6 linked regions of the Homo sapiens genome follow. The protein of the gene in region 5 purifies or fractionates together with the protein of the main gene of each other region. This does not show direct contact. Each region holds a gene or a part of one and is shown on either strand. Other genes may lie near its edges. The genes, in order: LIN28B, RBM19, NOP14, PARN, DHX37 and PIP5K1A.

Region 1 (2,363 bases), on a different chromosome or scaffold from region 5:
GGAACTGGCCAATTTAAAGAACTCAATAGTTTTACCAAATCGTTTGTTACAGTACATCAATACTGCATTCATGGTTTGATAAATCTACATTCGTATTTTAGATATTTGGTACTGATAAAATTTGCCCTTTTCAAATTCTTTATTAGAAAAAACTTGTAGAAAAATTCTAAAATGATTTCTTCAATAGGCTTTGAATATTTTGCTTCAGACCACTCTTCTGACTACATGAAGTATGTGTCTTTATTCACAAGCTTGCACAATCCCTGCTGGACAATTCTGAGTGATGGCAGCTCCCACCTTTCCTTCTTCCTTCACTTAGACTACATTTATTCAGCATCTGTATTGTTGGAGTAAGTTCCATGTTAATACTCACCACTGAGGATATGTTAATACCACTTAACTTATGCTCCAACTGATGTAAAACACTGCCTAAATGGCCTTTTATCCTTTCACTTAACTTAGTAAGAACACACATCATAAAAAATCTCCAAAACCCATCATAAATGCCAACGTTATATGTTTTATTTTTAATCAAGTAATTTTTTTAAACCTCAACATATCCATAATTGACAGAATAAGACATTAGGCATGAAATGAGAATATAAAACCCAGAGTGTACAGAAAGGCAAACAGTGCTTCAGTCCCTCCAGATGACTGCATGCGAGTGAAACGCATTCCAAACATCTACCCCTTTTTTGTCTTTTAAAAACATACAGTTCAAGTGTTTTTATTTTCACTTGTAAACAACATGAGTCAAAATGGACAATGAGGTAATCTAAATACTACACAGGATAATTTAAAAACACTAGATAAAACACCATTATTAAAGACATATAAAAATCAGGGTTCACTTTGGTCTCTAGTACGGTTAGTTGTTAATACCAAAAAGCAACACATACTAATTGAAGCCAGCTTGGTGGTAGGTGCCAGTGGTTGATAGATGTGATTCAAGAGGTAGTCAACACCATCATTTTCAAGCTGGTAACTCTCACAAGTGTTAAGCCACAGATGCATTAAATATCATAATACTTCTCACAGTACAGTACTTTACCATAACTTGCAGCTTTGTTCCAAATATAAAATTTAAAAATGAATCATAGGTCAACTTCTCACTCTAACTGAACAATTAAGACACAGATCATACAACCACCACATCTTAAAGAGGCTGTTGACAGCTATGTAAGACAGAGTTTGATGCTTTTAACAAGATGTTCTTCTCTAAAACAAATAAATCTCATTAAGACATCTAGAAAATTAAAGTCAGTGCAGCTGCACTTGTACATACTTTCCCAAATTTTATAACCAAAGGGGAAATACACATATATATTTTATGATAAACATTTCTTAGAGAAAACAGATAAATTAATTTAAATTAACTTTAAGACTTAATGAGATTTCCCATGTCCTGTATAATTCATCTTATAGTGAATGTTACAAAGTCTATTAACACTTATGGGCTCCTATTCACAAACTAAATACAACCAGCAGTAACTTGGGGCCGCACTGGTGCAAAATAAAACTGAGCCAGAATAAAAAAAGTATCGGCAATATTGGAGGTGGACTGATGCTAATAACATGACATTTCTTGATCTTTTTTCTTACATTGCACTCTAAACTTCCAAGTTATAAGCAGGTAAAAATCTTTCTAAATCTTTCAACTGCAAAAATACATCCAAGGCCTTCTAGTGAAGACTAGAAACCCAAGTATAAAAATGTTTTCATTATAGTCTGCCATGTAGCAAAAGATCAGCTTACAGGGCTAAGAGACTGGCAATGCATCTTGTTTAGGAATTACATTTGTGTTGACATGAGGGTGAGGTCAAGAGATAACTTAATTCACAGACCTGCTGCCCCACCATTAGTAATCCCTGCAAAGTGATGCTTCACACAGACCCTTTTCCCTCAATAGCTAGTAATGGCATTGCATGTTCATTCCTTGGCAAGCCAGTGCTAGTTAGTTATGTGCCTGGGGCTATAATGCTGCAATACGCTTGGCTTCAGGGCAGCACAGACAGTAAATGAAGGACATTGGCGTCTTTTAAACTCTTTGCCTAGCATGAATACCTGCATACACCAACCCCTCTCCCTGCTACCCCTTCCAACCTCCACCTCTGGGCAAAGTGGTGCTTCTAAGACTGCTTCCGTGTTCTGTTTTGCTTAAGTTGAACAGTGCCCATAATTCTTTAAACTAAATACATGATTATTTTAAGGAAATGTTTGGAGACTTTGCTAACTAAAACGAGATGCTTCATTATTCACAAGTGTTTGTCAGAAACATGCAGTTGTGAATTGCTATTTATAATACAGATAAAAAGGTTCTGTACCAGAGAATTATCAGCCACCTGTAAGGCTGGAACAGCATA
Region 2 (3,500 bases), about 11 Mb from region 5:
GAATACAGCCCGGAGTTTAGAGAATGCATCACCGTGGTCTGGGATAACTCAGGCAGGCTCCCTCCAGGGCTGAAGCTGAACTGGCAGGGTGAGTGAGATTTGGGTTCAGGCCTGGTGTTGGCTTGGCTTATGCTGCCGCCTCAGGTGACAGGGCAGGTGTTGGGTGCTGTCATCTGCCACCTTGATTGTGTTTTTTGGAAGGCAGCAGAGAAGAGTTTGGAGTCACCAGCAAGGAGTTGCTGGCAAGTTCTAGGCCTCCCCCTGGAGCCCTGACTCCTCTTCATTGCAGGTGGGCGCTACATCGAGGTGTTCAGGGAAAAGAACGTCCCCACCACCAAGGGTGCACCAAAGAATACCACCAAATCCTGGCAAGGCCGGATACTCGGGGAGAACGAAGAGGAGGAGGACCTGGCCGAATCCGGAAGGCTCTTTGTACGGAACCTGCCCTACACCAGCACCGAGGAGGATCTGGAGAAGCTCTTCTCCAAATATGGTAGGGGTGTGGCCTCCGGGCCGTGGATAGCCCAGCGGCTATGGGAGCCGGGCTCTCACTCTGACGTCCTGGGTTCAAGTCCCAGTGTGCACACGACTCCACATCTCTTGCCTCAGTTTTCTCATCTGTAAAATGGGACCAAGTACCCCTGAGCTGCTGTGAGGATTCAGTGACATGATGAATGCAGGGATTCGCAGGGCAGGAAGTAAAAGGTATTAATAGCATCACTGGCATCCTTTGCTGTCTGAACTCTCTAACTTCTCCAAATTCAGAATTGAAGCAATTCGGATGACTTTTTTGAGATACTCCCTTGCTGTCCAAAGTCATGCCACTCGGTATTGGAATTGAGTAACTGTACAGGTTTCACCTGATGAATATACCTACACGGCGTTCCTCCGTATCTGAACTCTTAATTATGTAAAGTCTTCTTATCCAAGCTGAGCACCAAATAGATTTGATAGTGTCAAGGTTAGTGTTGTTGTTGCTGTTATTTCTCAGGCCATGGGCTTGAGGGCCTGTAGTCCAGCTTGGTCACAACAGGCTGTGTTTGTTTGTGGAGTTACCATTGTTGAAGGGCAGGAAGGGAGGGTTCAGGATGAGGGGAGGTCTTGATACCTTTGAGATCCCCGCAGTGTCTCCCCATGTCTATTCAGAGGCCAGCTGTAGGTTGTGGAGGATTGGAGATGTAGGTTGAACACCTGATGTGGGCCCCGTTGTCAGGGTAAGGATGCCCTGAGTGGAGCATGCCATCAGGAAAATTGACCTGACCTCCAAGCCTGGGGCCTGCCCCAGTGGAACTGTGTGTTCCATTCACCAGTCTGCTCACCATATCCTTCACACAGGCTGGCATCCCGGCTTACACCTCATGGGTGGGCTGAGGGGGAGAAGCATTTGTCGATATATTGCAAATGTCCATTTGGGAAGGAAAGACCCAGAGAGGGGACGCGGTCACACCCTGGCATTCAGAGTTGAAACCAATGCAGAAAGGGTGTGCTTTAATTTGAGCATGATGCTAATATCATCATGGAAGACACTTCTTTGGCACTAACTCTAGCAGGCACTGTTTAGTGCACTATGCACGCATGAACGCATTTAGCCCATGAGCTAGGTACTGTTGTGCTGTTTTACAGATGAAAAGACTGAGGCATGGGGAGGCTTAGTGATTTGCTCAAGGCAAGCTTCATGTGTAATAGGTGGTGGTGCTGGGCTCCAGCCCAGGTATTGTTGCTGTTAGGATAGACACACGTAGGGGACTGGGAAATGACACCCATGACCTGTGAGGTTGGCTCACAGCTGGTGCTCACCACATTCTTCCCTGGGGCCAAGTGGCTGCGGCCTACCAGAGACCGACACTTCTCCTGTCCTCAGGTCCCCTGTCTGAGCTCCACTACCCCATCGACAGCCTGACCAAGAAACCCAAGGGTTTTGCATTCATCACCTTCATGTTCCCTGAGCACGCTGTGAAGGCCTACTCGGAGGTGGACGGGCAGGTATTCCAGGTGAGGCCCCGTCCTGGGCTGGCCAGGAGGCTGTGGGGCTCACATGGTCGGGAAAGGCTGGTGTGTGTGTGTGTGTATGTGTGTGGACACGGGCGTCCACTTTGTGGGCCTAAGAAAATGTGCAATGGCATGCTAAGTCACTGCCTCACTCAAGCCACTGGAGAGTAAGAAGTCGTGTGAGGGCACGGTCTGATCTGTTCTGGTCACTGATCTGTGGCACCTACACCTCTGTCTGGCACTTAGCAGGCACTGAAAAAATACTCCTTGAATGGATGAATTTGCTCTCCATCTCTATAGATACCACCTTAGAAGAGGAGTAAGAAGAAAAGAATTTTGACAGGGACCTATTAAAATGGCCACAGTGGAATAAAAGAAACTTCTCTTTTCCCAGTGTTACCAAGTAATATACTTAGCATACATCCTCAAGCCCCAGGCTGCCTCATCATCACCCTTTTTCCTTTTCTCATTCATTCATTGATTTATTCATGATTTCTTGATCCCCTTGTTGCCATCAGGCCAGACCTGGCCCCACCGGCATGGACCTCACATTCTTACTCACTGGTGCAGGGACAGGATGCGATGCAGGCTTGAGAGGCGGGGAGAGGGCTGCGGGTGCGGGGTTATACACTGATCGAAGTTTTGTGTGTGTAGCTGTGTCAGGTGGCCCCCTCACGACATCAGGATCCTGTGTCAGGTGGGAAGAGAGTGGCCACGTTCTACCTGACCTCCCTCCCACCCTCTGGTCAGGGTTTCAGTGCTGGGTCCAGCTTACTCGTGGCAGAAGCCAACATCCTTCGGCAGGAAGCAGGGCTTACAGGCAAGGCTTCTGTTTACTCCCTTCCCGTCATTCCCATCCAGGGCAGGATGCTCCACGTGTTACCATCTACCATCAAGAAGGAAGCCAGCGAGGATGCCAGTGCCCTGGGATCGTCGTCCTACAAGAAGAAGAAGGAGGCCCAGGACAAAGCCAACAGTGCCAGGTCCTCAGTGCCCCTGAAACCACTGAGCTCCAACCCCAACCCTCTGCCACCCTCACCCTGCCCTTTCTAAGCCACCTGGGTCTTCTGACTCCTGATGGGTTTAGTTCATACCTTACCGAGCTTCAGTTTTCTCATCTGTAAAATGGGAGAATAATAGTAGTGCCTTACTTTTATGGTGCTGTAAGGTTTAAATGAGTGAATGTATGTGAAGTTCTTAGTCCCTGACACAGATGAAGCACTGTTAGGGATGGTTCCTGTCATCATCCGTCTTGTTGTCTTCAGGCCCTGTATACGTAGCCCATGATAGGGAAATTGGGGGCATGTAGATAGGCAGGCCTAGGAGCCCATTTCTTACAGGATTCGTGTCTGAGAACGAGTTCCCCTCATCCAGCTGCGGTCTGATCTCCCTGTTCTGCCTCTGCCTCTTAGCTCTCACAACTGGAACACACTATTCATGGGGCCGAATGCCGTGGCCGATGCCATCGCACAGAAGTACAACGCCACCAAGAGTCAAGTGTTTGACCACGT
Region 3 (3,500 bases), on a different chromosome or scaffold from region 5:
CTTACCACATCCAACCCTGGCAATGCCGCCCGGCCTTTGGTCTCAATCATTTCTTCCATCTCATGCATCGCATCTCGGAGAACAAATTTGATAGCGTCACTTGCAGATTCAGGAAACATCTGGCAAAGATGATATAAGTGCCTGTTAAGCAGAAATGTAAAGTCAGGAGAGAATGACTTTAGATAAGAAACACAGAAAAGCCCTGCAAGCCACTTTCCTATGCAGTCACCTGTTGACTGAGCAAGTAAGAACTGGATGAATCCGCTTTTTCTAACAGCATTCTTAAGAGTCTACACTCACTTCTGCCATTTCCTAAAAACTCGGCCATAACATTATGGACTGGAGGTGGTGGGAGAAACAGCTCGATTTGTGGTACAGACGTTGTTGGGGGCACCACTCTGTGTGGCAGCTGCAGCTGACAGCTCCAAGGCACTTTCCATATTAACTCATTTATTCCTCACGACAGGTACTTCTTTGATAGTGCCTCCATGCATGCAGAAGATGACGTGGAGAGCTCCGCGCGGCACAGGGCAGGAAGCTGGTGTGCACTCTCATGGATCCGAAGCCAACACACGCCTCTCAACTGAGGACTCTGCCCCTCTGGCATTCTTCCAGCCACCAGCCCTGGGGGCCAGGAGCCACTGAGTGGGTCACACAGCCTTAGAGGGCAACGAGGGCAGGAGCTCGCCCTGGCGGTCCCCATGCAGACAAGAGGTACACACTCCCTGGCATGCAAAGCCACCCAACTGGGTTTCACTGAAGGGTGAGGGGCGGGGTGTCTACCGTGCTTTCCAAATACCGCTCAGTCACCCAGAGCTTGAAACTTACAATGAGCCACCCCATCCCAGCCACAAATCTAAAGGGGTTCACTTGTTTCAAAATCAACTTGTTTGTGGTTAAAAGTCAGTCCCAGCTCTACAGTGGCTGGAGCGGCACGTGTGAGAAGCCGGCTTGCGCTGTGAGGCTCACAAGCCCTGGGTGACCACCTGCCCACTTGGCATGCTGACACCATCATTCCACCTACCTTAGTAACTCTGGAATGTATTTTTATGACTCTAAATGGGAGAAAAATTGTTCTGCTTAACCCCACATCCCAGATGACACACCATTTTTACTTACACAACCAACTTATCAATGACTGTGAGGTCTGGTGGGTCATCTGTAGCCAAATCGCCAACGTATTCCAAAAGAAAGCCAAACAGTTTCTGCAGGAACATGAATTGGGAAATAAAGCTCAGTGCTCAGCACCAAGAACAAAGCCACAGGCACACAGCTTCTGGATCACGTACATTCTGGTGACAACCAGGTGGGGCAGGGGAGCCCAGGGTGACAGACACGAGCAGCCTTCTAAAATGTAAGCAAATACACTGCTAGAACTTGCTAAGCACTAGAAGGTGTAGGGGGGAGAAAGCTAAGGGCAAGGCGCATCCTTCTACAGAACAGCTGACAACACACCACTAGGAAAGCACGACGAGGAACACGGGCAGCACGGCGTCCTCCTCACAGGCAATATCCACCATTCACTGAAAGAGGCACGATCACAGCCACCTATCTGCCACAGCAAAGTCTGGCTCTGCCACACGCTGGCTATGTGAACCCTAGTGTCCTCCCCTGTGAGATGAAGGTGAAGGTCCCCATGCCTGCCTCTGGCTGGGTCTGGCACGAGGCCTAGAGAGGGGCCAAAGCCAAGGGAGGCCTCTGCCGGTGCCATACCAAGTACTCCCAGCCATCATCATAGGTAACCATGTGACGGGCTGGCCCCATCTGGCCTGAGGCACACATGGCCGTTGCACAACTTCACACAATTCTGGCATTCATATACGGGGCTATGCTGACACTCCCAGCGCTCCACACACACTCAATCCACGTACTTCTAATTTTGCTTTGTTTCCTTCTGCGAGACTCGGGTGGTTGCACTTCTGAATTCTCTCCACCACCAAAAGCTGCTCTTCCATCGATCTTCCTAACAACAGAGATCTCAGTTCCTCATAGGATTCAGGGGCTATCAAAAACACAAAACATACTGCACATTTAACATTTATATATATGTATATATATTTATTTTTGAGATGGAGTCTCGCTCTGTTGCCCAGGCTGGAGTGCAGTGGTGCAATCTCAGCTCACTGAAACTTCCGCCTCCTGGGTTCAAGAGATTCTCCTGCCCCAGCCTGCTGAGTAGCTGGGATTACAGGCACTCGCCACCATGCCCGGCTAATTTTTGTATTTTCAGTAGAGACAGGGCTTCACCGTGTTGGCCAGGCTGGTCTTGAGCTCCTGACCTCAGGTGATCCGCCTGCCTAGGCCTCCCAAAGTGCTGGGATTACAGGCATGAGCCACCGCACCTGGCCCACATTTCACATTTAAAATGAGAATTACTTACATGTCTGCTGACAGAGAGGTAATTTTATATAACTATTCTACTTCACGATCACAACAAACCCACCAGCGTTTGCCCTGGTACACCTGGAGGGGTCTCAGCCATCCTGACCTGGGCTGTCAGGTGCGATCACGCACCTGGGAACAGGCTAATAAGGAAATGCCCTCCCACCTTTCCTTGATTAGGAATTTGCTAAAACACCCACAGTTTCAGAGCATCTTGGTGGCAGGGTGCTGGGTTTAGTGCCCAGACTGCTTCAGAAGGACCTGGAAGGAGCCACTGTGAGCCAAGCAGTGTCAGCTCAGGAGACTCTTGCCACCAGAGGGCACTTCACAGAGGCCAGCTTCACCACTAGCTTCTCCTCTGGAAGCGTCTGGCAGGCACAGAATAATTCGGCATTGCTTACTAGAACCTGACCATTTTTCTTTTCTTTGTTTTGAGACAGGGTCTTGCTCTGTCACCCAGGCTAGAGTGCAGTGGTGTAATCTCGGCTCACTGCAACCTCCGCCTCCCAGGCTCAAGTGATCCTCCCACCTCAGCCTCCTGACCAGCTAGGAACACAGGCACAAGCTATTGCACCAGGCTTATTTTTTATATTTTTGGTAGAGACGAGGTTTCGCAATGTTGCCCAGGCTGGTCTCAAACTCCAAGGCTCAAGTGACCCACCCACCTTGGCCTCCCAAAGTGTTGGGATTATAGGCATCAGCCACGCACCTGGCCTGGACAATTTTTCTCCACATACTAGACAAAACAACACTGTATATTCCATCTAAAATGTTACGTGGCCAAACAGGAGGCCCAGGTGGGAACATGGAAGCCTTCTCGCAGATGCTCACCCACCTCCCCAGCCCTGCCCCTCTGGTCCACCACAAGAGGCTGACCATATACTAAAAGGGAGGTGAAGGTACCACTAGAGAGAGGCGCATCTGGCCCATCGGGGGCCGGCCTACAGAACCACAGTCACAAACTAAGATGACCACTCACTCTAAGACCTGGATCAGCAGACACAGGGGTGTGTCCAGGCACTCCCAAGGGCATCCTTGGTCCCCATTCCACAAATGCAACCCCTGGGAGGGAGACGAACACACACAGCTATGGCCAGGTCATAAAGGTTATCCCAGAA
Region 4 (3,500 bases), on a different chromosome or scaffold from region 5:
AAATTAAAAAGTTAGCCAGGCACAGTGATGCACACCAGTAGTCCCAGCTACTTGGGAGGCTGAGCCCAGGAGTTCAGCGTTGCAGTAAGCTATGATTGAACCACTGTACTTCCAGCCTGGGTGACAGAGTGAGACCCTGACTCTTAAAAAAGAGGCGGCACAGCTTCTGCTCTCTCTGCTCTCCACCACGTAAGGACAGGAGAAGGCAGCCATCTGCAAACCAGGAAGTGGGCTCTCACCAGATACTAGGTCTGCTGGCAACTGGGTCTTGGACTTTCCAGCCTCCTGAACATGAGAAATAAATGTCTGTTGTTTAAGCCCCACACTCGACAGTAATTTATTACAGCAGCCTAAGCCAGGAGACAGGTAAGATCCACCCTAGATCACTGCGTGTTTGACTGAAAGACATGTAATGCGTACCTAGGTAATTGGCCATGGAGATGAAGCACAGCCCTGTGATGTAGGCATCGTAGCCTGCCTCGTGGAGTTGTTCAGAGGCTGTGTCATAACTTGGAAAACCTTCGGCACTTTCTAAGAAAAAAAAGGAAAAAGTTTTCCTCAAAACAAAGACTAGTAAGCACATTGCCCTACCAATCAAAATTGCATTAGCATATGCTAGAGAAATACCCTAAATAGGCAGAAAAAAGCTATCTATTCCTTAATTCTCTCTATATAAGACCTTAAAATACAAGATAACAGAGTCACTGAAAAGGAGGGCTTTGGTCTAGGATACAGAAATGCCTCAGTTAGATTACAAAGGACTCAGCCGTGGGCTTTCTCGTCCCACACTGGTGGGTGCTATTTATGATCATCCATAACTCACTCTAGGACAATGATTCCTCTTCTGCTTGCTTTCTAAGGCCATGAAAAGGATATTCTTCCCTTATACAAGATGGTCACATCAGGCCACAATAGATGATCCAGAGTAAAGATTAAGAGCATGGGCTCTGGAGTCACACTGAGTTCGAATCTCTGCTCCACCACTTATTTGCGGTATGACCTTGGGCAAGTCACTTCATCCCTAAGGTTCCAGTTTTGTAAAACAGAGATGATAATCAAACCTTCTTCAAAAGGTTATTGTTAGGATCAGATAAGATAATATAAGTTAAACTCTTACCTAGTGCTTGGTACATAGTAAGTGCTCAAAAACTGTTATCTATCAATACCTGAGGCAACCCTCCCCCAAAAAAAGAGAAGACTGCAATTCACTATCAACAGCTCCAACTCACTACTGTCCTCTACTATGTTCCCAAGCTTAGAGATCGAAAGGTGACAGCACAACCAACTCCAAAAATAAATCGAACTTGCTATAATGCTGGCCTTGGATCATGGAACCACTTTACAGCAAAGACCGCTTTATATACAATATGGTTCTTTTGTGACATTGATAAATACAGATGTGACCAGATAAACTATAAGAGGAATGACCTGCTTTAGACTGAATTCTCTACCAGATACCACTATTTTATATGGAAATAATAACATAAAACTATAACTCATAAATAATTATATCCTAGAACCATTCTGGAAATGAATGTCAGGAAGGTTACTATAACACAGAATCAAAAGCATAAATGGAAATTAACAATGAAAAGGCTGTAACTGTTTTTATGTCAATACAATGCTCTTTAAGCAAGAATTCTTTAACTCCATATTAAATATTAGACTTGATGCCTTTAAAAAAAAGCCTTTTAACATGGTAGCCACCTAAGTAATATCTTCCACTCCATCATCAACTGAGACACATTCTTTCCAAAATCAATTATTTCCATTATATTGTTATAGAAAAGGTCCACGTTTTCTCCCCCAATGGCCCCACCACCACTTTTCTTAATTCCTTTCTTGGACTATTACCCAGAAAGGGGCAAATAACTGTAATCTTGGCTGCTTTAATACTTTGCATTATCAATTTCTAAACCATTAGTCCTATTATCCATGTCTTTAGAAGTTTTCAGGCTACAACTAATGGCTCGCTAATCACCGTATCAGCAGCACAATCAGGTTAACAGGGACCAAGGAAGTAGCACCTGGTAGGCTCTCCACATACCTTGGTGGTGGCCCGAGGTGGCAAAACACCTCCATCTCATCTCCCTACTTCTGGTTTTCCTCAGTGCTGCTGTTTCTACTCTCTAAACCAGCTGAAAAGGAGGCAGGGTGGGGACTTGCCTTAATCTCACCTGTAAATCCAGTTCTCGGGCTTTTCTGAGATGGAAAATATATTTTTTACTCTACCCCTGGTGATTAATCACTAGCTCTTTGTCTCTGCTTCAATAATGTATGAAAGAATAAAAGGGCACATCAAGTTTTAGGAGAATTCCATATTATTAGAAAATAGAAGCCTTGAAGCTTTAATTGCTAAAATTCTCAATGAATGGCTACCCAACTCCATTAACATAAAATATATGTAGAATTAAAAGACCATCTTTATTCAAAAAACAATAATTCAACACACGGTACGTGCAAGTGAATTCAGCCAAAATCTATAAATGAACAATACGGTCTCCAGAGCCATTCTGCTTTTCTTCTACAATATACATCAATAATTATTACAAAGAGTTTGGAGGGTTTCCGGTTTAATATTCTTACCAACTTTAGGAGGGTTGAAAGGTGTCTCTTTTAACCGCTTTTCCAATTCCGCAAGGGATGTGTTGTTAATGATATCCTGCAAACCACGAAGCAAAGAATTATGAGATTTCATCATCTCAGAACAATATATTAAAGAGATTCACTGACCCCCCCAAAAAAAAGACAGCATCTAGTACTGTCTCCTTGTGTTCTTTAAAGAAACACAGAAGTCTTCGTTTTTTTCAATGTGAAAGAGAAGCAGCTAGTTTAATTTTTATAATATACAAAGTATAACCAAATGAATAAAGATCTTTACAGATGCATTAAATACCTCCAAACCTTTTGCCAGAAGGCTATATTGTTCTGGCATTCATTTCACTCAGTAATATGCAGTCGCTTTATAAAGTAGCAAATGAATAATACCTTAAAAGGTTGTGTGCTGGCCATCAATTTAGTATCCAAGAGTCTAAAAAGAATTTTTAACAAGGTAAACAAAATGTATATCAATGTTTAAAATGTCTTTTACTCAAATATGTAAGCTACTTAAAATACTTCATACATAAAAAACATAATTAAAACATAAAATGTTTAATACAGAAAATACTTAAACACAGACAAAGTAATTAAACACATTGGCCATTTTGAACCCAGCACCAGCATCCCTGCTACGTTGGAGTAGGTACTCAGTCCCATCATCAGCGACTTCATTGAGCAACTGCAGGAGAGTCCACACTTGGAGTACAAGTTCTAGATTCACCTGGATCCTCAGAGAGCCTGGGCTCCATCAATCTCAAGGGTGAGTCAAATACTCTCACATGGTTTTACGTGGTTCAAATACTGCTGCCGGTCTACCATTCCCAAACTGCTACCATCTACTCCTACTCCTCAGGTTTGTAAACTATAAATTCTTCTGCAGGGCCAAAATCTACAATCAG
Region 5 (2,403 bases):
ACAAGAACAAAACTCTGTCTCAAACAAACAAGCAAACAAACAAAACTCAAAAGCAAAAAAACATAATTCTCTAGACAGGCCTTCTAAAAAATAAATAATAATAATAAAATAAAAGAGAAGGCAAAGGGTCCCCTTCCCCTAATCATCCCGGGACAGAAGGCTCTAGATCCCACCTCCTCCCATCCACCCTGGCTGCCTCTGGTCCACATTCCTTGCCCACCAAGGCTGCTCTGTGCATGCAACTTGTCTCATCTAGAACCTTCCTCCAGATTTGTGCCCAGCTGCAGCCCTGGCTCCTTTGAATCTGCCCAGTGAGGCTCTCCCCGACCAGCCCAGTCGCACTCCACCCCCTGCCCACCGAGGCCTCACTCATGTCCTGCTCTGTCCCTCTGGGGCCGAGCAACGCTGCTGTGGGACAGAGATCGTGTCTGTATCCCAGCCCCGAGAACATGCCTGGGACAGGGCCACACTGGAAAACGTGAGCTGAGTGACTGACACGGCTCCTGACAGCCCAGCAGCGGGTGCTGTGCCCCACGCCCCATCTCGAGTCCCTGGCACCTGCCTGCACCTTCAGGCCTGCCTCCAGTGCCCCAAGCCCCTGCACCATAGGCCCCACCAGCCCCAGGAAGGGGGAGGTGTCTGTGGGTCTGGACCACAGGCAGGAGGAGAGCAGAAGCAGGAGGCAGAGGGCAAGGGTGAGCCCTGAAGCAGAGGTGGTGGGCGGGATGGGGCAGGGGTCTGCTTAGCTGGGAGGAAGTCCCCAGGGCCAGGAGGGCAGGATGCCTCCCACTGACACCTGGCGGCTCTGTGGGAGCTGCCCAGTGTCTCCCCTATCCCATATTCATGTCCACCCAGAACATCAGCGTGTGACCTTATATGGAAAGAGGGTCACTGCAAATGTCATGAGTTAAGGAGAGGTCATCCTGGAGTAGGGTGGGCCCTGAATACAATGACTGGTGTCCTTATAAGGAGAACACAGGGAGGGAGACTAAAGACACACAGAGAGATGGCCACGTGAAGATGGAGGCAGAGACTGGAGTGATGTGGCCACAAGCCCAGGAGGCCGACAGAGGCAAGACGGACCCTCCCCGAGAGCCGCTGCACAGACCGTGGCTCTGCAGAGCCTTCAGACCTGAGCACAGACTTCTGATGTTTTAAGCCTCCCTGTGTGTGGTGCTTTGTCCTGGCAGCCCCGGGGAGGTCATTCAGGCCTCGGACCCCTCCTGCCCACTGCGAGGCTCCCACCGAAGGCAGTACCTGGCCCACGTCTTCAGCATGGTGCCGGGGCTGGACAGCAGACAGCTCCGGTATGAGGCCAGCTTGCGGAAGACCTGATGAGAGACCACAGGAAGGGGTGAGGCCCGGGCTGCTGCTGCCCACGGTACCCGAGATGAGGGTCTGGAGCCGCTGTGCCACCTACCTGCCCTTCCAGCAGGAACCGGGCAAAGTGCTTGTAGCGGTCAATCCCCTCTGGAAAATCCACCTCGATGGCGGGGAGCGGCCAGCCCACGCGATCTAGAAGGTGGGAGCCAGTGAGACAGGGACCCTCCTGCAGCTGCCCTCCCGAGTCCCATCCCTGCCCCACCCGAGACACACACGTCCGGGGGCAGGGGACAGGACCGTGTGTCCGAGAAGCCCACGGCTGCAGGAGGCTCAGGTTGCCCAGGACACTGCCCCAACTCACAGAACACGCTGGCCCGGTGACACAGCACCCGCCCCCGCTCGGGGCAGTATGTAGGGGCTGGTTCCTCCAGGGGCTTGTCAAACTGGCAGTAAGAGGGCAGCAGGGCCGGGATCCACTGGACCTCCACGCTAGAGACGCCTGGGGGCCGGGGGAGGAAGCTGGGGTTACAGCGGCACCCTCCGTGGGAGGGGCTGCCATGCCTCTGCCCCAGGGTCCCAGCCACACCCCCATTAGCGTCACCATCGGGGGACAAGGGGCTGTCCGCAGGCCTCGGCACCTTTCATGTACATCTTAGTGGTCTCCACGATTTCCTGGTAGACCACAAACTCGGGGAGCTCTTTGAAAAGGACGGAGCTGGGGTGGATGAAGACAGGGTCGTCGAGGAGAGGGGTCTGCAGAGAATGGAGAGTGATGTGGTCAGGGAAGAACCCATGCCCAGGGGCTCCGCATACTTTCAACCCAGGAGAAGAATCTGATTATCCACTCCAGCCGCAAAAGTGGGAGAGTGCTCCATCTGCCGGGAAATGCGGCCCATCCACACGCTGGAGTCTGATCCAGCCGTGAAAAGGAAGGAAGTGCCGGGTGCAATGGCTCACGCCTGTAATCCCAACACTCTGGGAGGCCGAGGAGGGTGGATCATCTGAGGTCAAGAGTTCGAGACCAGCCTGGCTGGTTTCACCATGTTGGTGAAACCCCATTTCTACTAAAAATACAAAAAA
Region 6 (3,500 bases), on a different chromosome or scaffold from region 5:
TAAAGTGGAAACTATAGCCTGTGAAGTGAACAACAGAGATAATACCAGGCCAGCTAGCAAACTGGGGAGAGGGAAGGTGGTAATTTTATCCTTTAAATTGTTCTCTCCTAGAATGTTATTTATTATTTTTTTGAGACAGAGTCTTGCTCTGTCGCCCAGGCTACAGACCAGTGTAGTGCAGTGGTGCGATCTTGGCTCACTGCAGCCCTTGCCTCCCAGGTTCAAGCGATTCTCCTGCCTCAGCCTCCTAGGTCACTAGGATCACAGGCGTGCGCCACCACGCCCAGATAATTTTTGTATTTTTAGTAGAGGCGGGGTTTCCCCATGTTGGCCAGGCTGGCCTTGAACTCCTGGCCTCAAGCGATCCTCCTGCCTTGGCTTCCCAAAGTTCTGAGATTACAGGCGTGAGCTACTGCCCGGCCTCTCTCCTAGAATTTTGGAGCATTCTTACTTGACGTAAAGAAGGGAACAAGAGCCGGGCATGGTGACTCACGCCTGTAATGCCAGCACTTTGGGAGGCCAAGGCAGGTGGATCACCTGAGGTCAGGAGTTCCAGACCAGCCTGGCGAAACCCTGTCTCTACAAAAAATACAAAAATTAGTCAGACGTGGTGGCGTGCTCGTGTAATCCCAGCTGCTAGGGAGGCTGAGTCAAGAGAATCACTTGAACCCAGGAGGCGGAGGTTGCAGTGAGCTTAGAGTGCACTACTGCACTCCAGCCAGGGCAACAGAGCAAGACTCCGTCTCAAAAAAAAGAAAAGGGAACAAGAAAACTTATCAGTTTATTTTTCTTTCTTCTTTTTACTGGGTTTCCTTGATCAAGGACAAAAGTGTACTTCAAGAATATACTCTTTCCTGATGGCCAGGTAGAGAGGGAATCTTTGTTTTTCTGTGCTCCATACCCAGCCCAGAGAGACTGAATGAAACACCGATGGTGTTTCCTAGAGGAAACCCTAAGAAGCCCGTTTCCCCTATTGCACCTCACTTCTCTGCCCTTTCCCATCTAAACAGAGAATTTAATTTCGACATATGTTTATCCTGTTTTGTTCATATCTCCTACAAGCTTTTATTCTTTTACTGTTTTCTATTTGAAGTGAACTTTTTTCCCTCAACCCCTCCATCTTTTTAAACTGTCTCCATTTTTCTTTATTCTCCTGTGAAATTTCAGTCTGTTTATTTGTAATGGTTGTATTCAGTATGTATTAATTTACAAATATCTAATTCCTGGAAAATCTCTCTTGTTGGAATCTGAGGAAGACATTGGCAAAAAGAGAGGAAGGTAGGTCTGTTGTAGGGAGTTCAGCATATTCTTATTATTTACCTTGTATACTTAACTGAGCAATATGGAAGTAATCCAGAATAAGCTGTCCAAAAAGATTAGAGATATTGGTTGGGGGTGGGCAAAGGGGAGGTGAGCAAAGGAAGTTGGCGAGAGGGAATGAGAAGAGGGTTTTTTGTTCTTGTTTGTTTGTTTTTAGGATATTTAATTAGAGTATATTAATACTTTTTTTGTTTTGTTTTGTTTTGTTTTTTGAGGCGGAGTTTCACTCTTTTGCCCAGGCTGGAGTGCAGTGGTGGGATCTCAGCTCTCTGCAACCTCCACCTCCCGGGTTGAAGCGATTCACCAGCCTCAGCCTCCCAAGAAGCTGGGACTACAGGCACGTGCCACCACATCCGGCTAATTTTTGTACTTTCAGTAGAGACAGGGTTTCACCATGCTGGCCAGGCTGGTCTCTAACCCCTGACCTCAGGTGATCTGCCCACCTCAGCCTCCCAAAGTGCTGGGATTATAGGCGTGAGCCACCTTCCCGGCTATTTTTGTATTTTTAGTAGAGACGGGGTTTCGCCATGTTCGCCAGGCTGGTCTCGAACTTCTGACCTCAGGCGACCCTCACTGCAACCTTCGCCTGCTGGGTTCAAGCGATTCTCCTGTCTTAGCCTCCCTAGTAGCTGGGATTACAGGTACACACCAACATGCCTAGCTAATTTTTGTATTTTTAGTAGAGATGAGGTTTCACCATGTTGGCCAGGCTGATCTTGAACTCCTGACCTCAAGTGATCTGCCCGCCTTGGCCTCCCAAAGTGCTGGGATTACAGGCGTGAGCCACCGCGCCTGGTCTGAAATATGTTCATTTTAATCCAGCAGAATTCATTGCTGTTTCAAGATAGAACCAGATTTGGAAATAAAATTGGAAGGTGGCTATCTGCCAAAAATTTCAAGTGCCTCTTGGCCATGGGTAGCTTATTCAGGAAACCCAAGTCTTTTAAGGAAGGACTTGGATTTTTTTCTTAATTTCAAAGAACGTTTTTGTGCCAAGGGATACATATTTGAGGTCTGAGAACCATGAAACTTGTTTGTAGGATTAGAAGCAAAAGTTGACTAGAGGGAAATGTAGAGTTATTTTAATTTAACTCCCTCATTTTCCAAATTAGGAAACTGAGGTAAAGATGTTGCATAAAGGCTGTATGTTACCAAGATTAATCTTTTTTTTTTTTTTTGAGATGGAGTCTCGCTCTGTCCCTCAGGCTGGAGTGCAGTGGCGTGATCTCGGCTCACTGTGACCTCTGTCTTCCAGGTTCAAGTGATTCTGCTTCCTCAGCCTCCCAAGTAGCTGGGATTACAGGCGCACGCCACCACGCCTGGCTAATTTTTGTATTTTTAGCAGAGTCAGGGTTTCACCATGCTGGCCAGGCTGGTCTTGAACTCCTGACCTCGTGATCTGCCTGCATCGGCCTCCCAAAGTGCTGGGATGATTACGGGCATGAGGCACCACACCTGGCCATCAAGATTAATCTTAATAAATATGTTGCTCCTTCTTTTTTTTTTTTTTGAGACAGAGTTTCGCTCTTGCTGCCCAGTCTGGAGTGCAGTGGTGCGATCTTGGCTCACTGCATCCTCCTCCTCCTGAGTTCAAGTGATTCCCCTGCTTCCCTAGTAGCTGGGATTACAGGCACATGCCACCACGCCTGGCTAATTTTTGTATTTTTAGTAGAAATGGGGTTTCTCCATGTTGGGTCAGGCTGTTCTCGAACTCCTAACTTCAGCTGATCCACCTGCCTTGGCCTCCCAAAGTGCTGGGATTACAGGTGTGAGCCACCGGGCCCAGCTGGCTCATTCTTTGATATACTGCTTTTAATTGGCTATTAGCTGAGGTGACCCCAGGACTGGTAGATCAAATTGCTTTCAAGCTTTTGTTTCTAGGGACATCCTTGCACTTCTGACTGTTTCCTAGAAGAGCGTTAGGAAAAATTTACACCAGCTAAGAAACAAAATTTAGCTTTTCTCTGAAATGTGGCTTGGTTTTCTTTTCTTTTTTTTTTTTTTTTGGAGATGGAGTCTCACTCTGTCGCCTAGGCTGGAGTGCAGTGGTGCAATCTTGGGTCACTGCAAGCTCCACTTCCCGCTTTCAAGCGATTCCCCTGCCTCAGCCTCCTGAGTATCTGGGATTACAGGCGCACACCACCACGCCCAGCTAATTTTTGTATTTTTAGTAGAGACGG

Evidence for each region.
Region 1: the proteins of DHX37 (region 5) and LIN28B purify together in Homo sapiens (co-immunoprecipitation; one large-scale study listed by IntAct). This does not show direct contact.
Region 2: the proteins of DHX37 (region 5) and RBM19 fractionate together in Homo sapiens (co-fractionation; one large-scale study listed by BioGRID). This does not show direct contact.
Region 3: the proteins of DHX37 (region 5) and NOP14 purify together in Homo sapiens (affinity purification with mass spectrometry; one large-scale study listed by BioGRID and IntAct). This does not show direct contact.
Region 4: the proteins of DHX37 (region 5) and PARN purify together in Homo sapiens (affinity purification with mass spectrometry; one large-scale study listed by BioGRID and IntAct). This does not show direct contact.
Region 6: the proteins of DHX37 (region 5) and PIP5K1A purify together in Homo sapiens (co-immunoprecipitation; one large-scale study listed by IntAct). This does not show direct contact.

The regions. Positions count from the first base shown.
Region 1 is NC_000006.12:105,081,470-105,083,832, reverse strand, and holds the end of LIN28B (protein lin-28 homolog B), read right to left. Parts: 3' UTR 501-2,363; downstream 1-500. UniProt on the Homo sapiens protein: Suppressor of microRNA (miRNA) biogenesis, including that of let-7 and possibly of miR107, miR-143 and miR-200c.
Region 2 is NC_000012.12:113,945,826-113,949,325, reverse strand, and holds part of RBM19 (probable RNA-binding protein 19), read left to right. Parts: intron 1-289; coding exon 290-493; intron 494-1,861; coding exon 1,862-1,992; intron 1,993-2,850; coding exon 2,851-2,972; intron 2,973-3,401; coding exon 3,402-3,498; intron 3,499-3,500. UniProt on the Homo sapiens protein: Plays a role in embryo pre-implantation development.
Region 3 is NC_000004.12:2,946,407-2,949,906, forward strand, and holds part of NOP14 (nucleolar protein 14), read right to left. Parts: intron 2,003-3,500; coding exon 1,872-2,002; intron 1,206-1,871; coding exon 1,120-1,205; intron 715-1,119; exon of another isoform or gene 467-714; intron 142-466; coding exon 6-141; intron 1-5. UniProt on the Homo sapiens protein: Involved in nucleolar processing of pre-18S ribosomal RNA. Has a role in the nuclear export of 40S pre-ribosomal subunit to the cytoplasm.
Region 4 is NC_000016.10:14,581,761-14,585,260, forward strand, and holds part of PARN (poly(A)-specific ribonuclease PARN), read right to left. Parts: intron 3,032-3,500; coding exon 2,989-3,031; intron 2,663-2,988; coding exon 2,587-2,662; intron 532-2,586; coding exon 421-531; intron 1-420. UniProt on the Homo sapiens protein: 3'-exoribonuclease that has a preference for poly(A) tails of mRNAs, thereby efficiently degrading poly(A) tails.
Region 5 is NC_000012.12:124,948,729-124,951,131, forward strand, and holds part of DHX37 (probable ATP-dependent RNA helicase DHX37), read right to left. Parts: intron 2,077-2,403; coding exon 1,962-2,076; coding exon of another isoform or gene 1,925-1,961; intron 1,823-1,924; coding exon 1,685-1,822; intron 1,516-1,684; coding exon 1,421-1,515; intron 1,332-1,420; coding exon 1,258-1,331; intron 1-1,257. UniProt on the Homo sapiens protein: ATP-binding RNA helicase that plays a role in maturation of the small ribosomal subunit in ribosome biogenesis. Required for the release of the U3 snoRNP from pre-ribosomal particles.
Region 6 is NC_000001.11:151,205,052-151,208,551, forward strand, and holds part of PIP5K1A (phosphatidylinositol 4-phosphate 5-kinase type-1 alpha), read left to right. Parts: exon of another isoform or gene 1-1,278; intron 1,279-3,500. UniProt on the Homo sapiens protein: Catalyzes the phosphorylation of phosphatidylinositol 4-phosphate (PtdIns(4)P/PI4P) to form phosphatidylinositol 4,5-bisphosphate (PtdIns(4,5)P2/PIP2), a lipid second messenger that regulates several cellular processes such as signal transduction, vesicle trafficking, actin cytoskeleton dynamics, cell adhesion, and cell motility.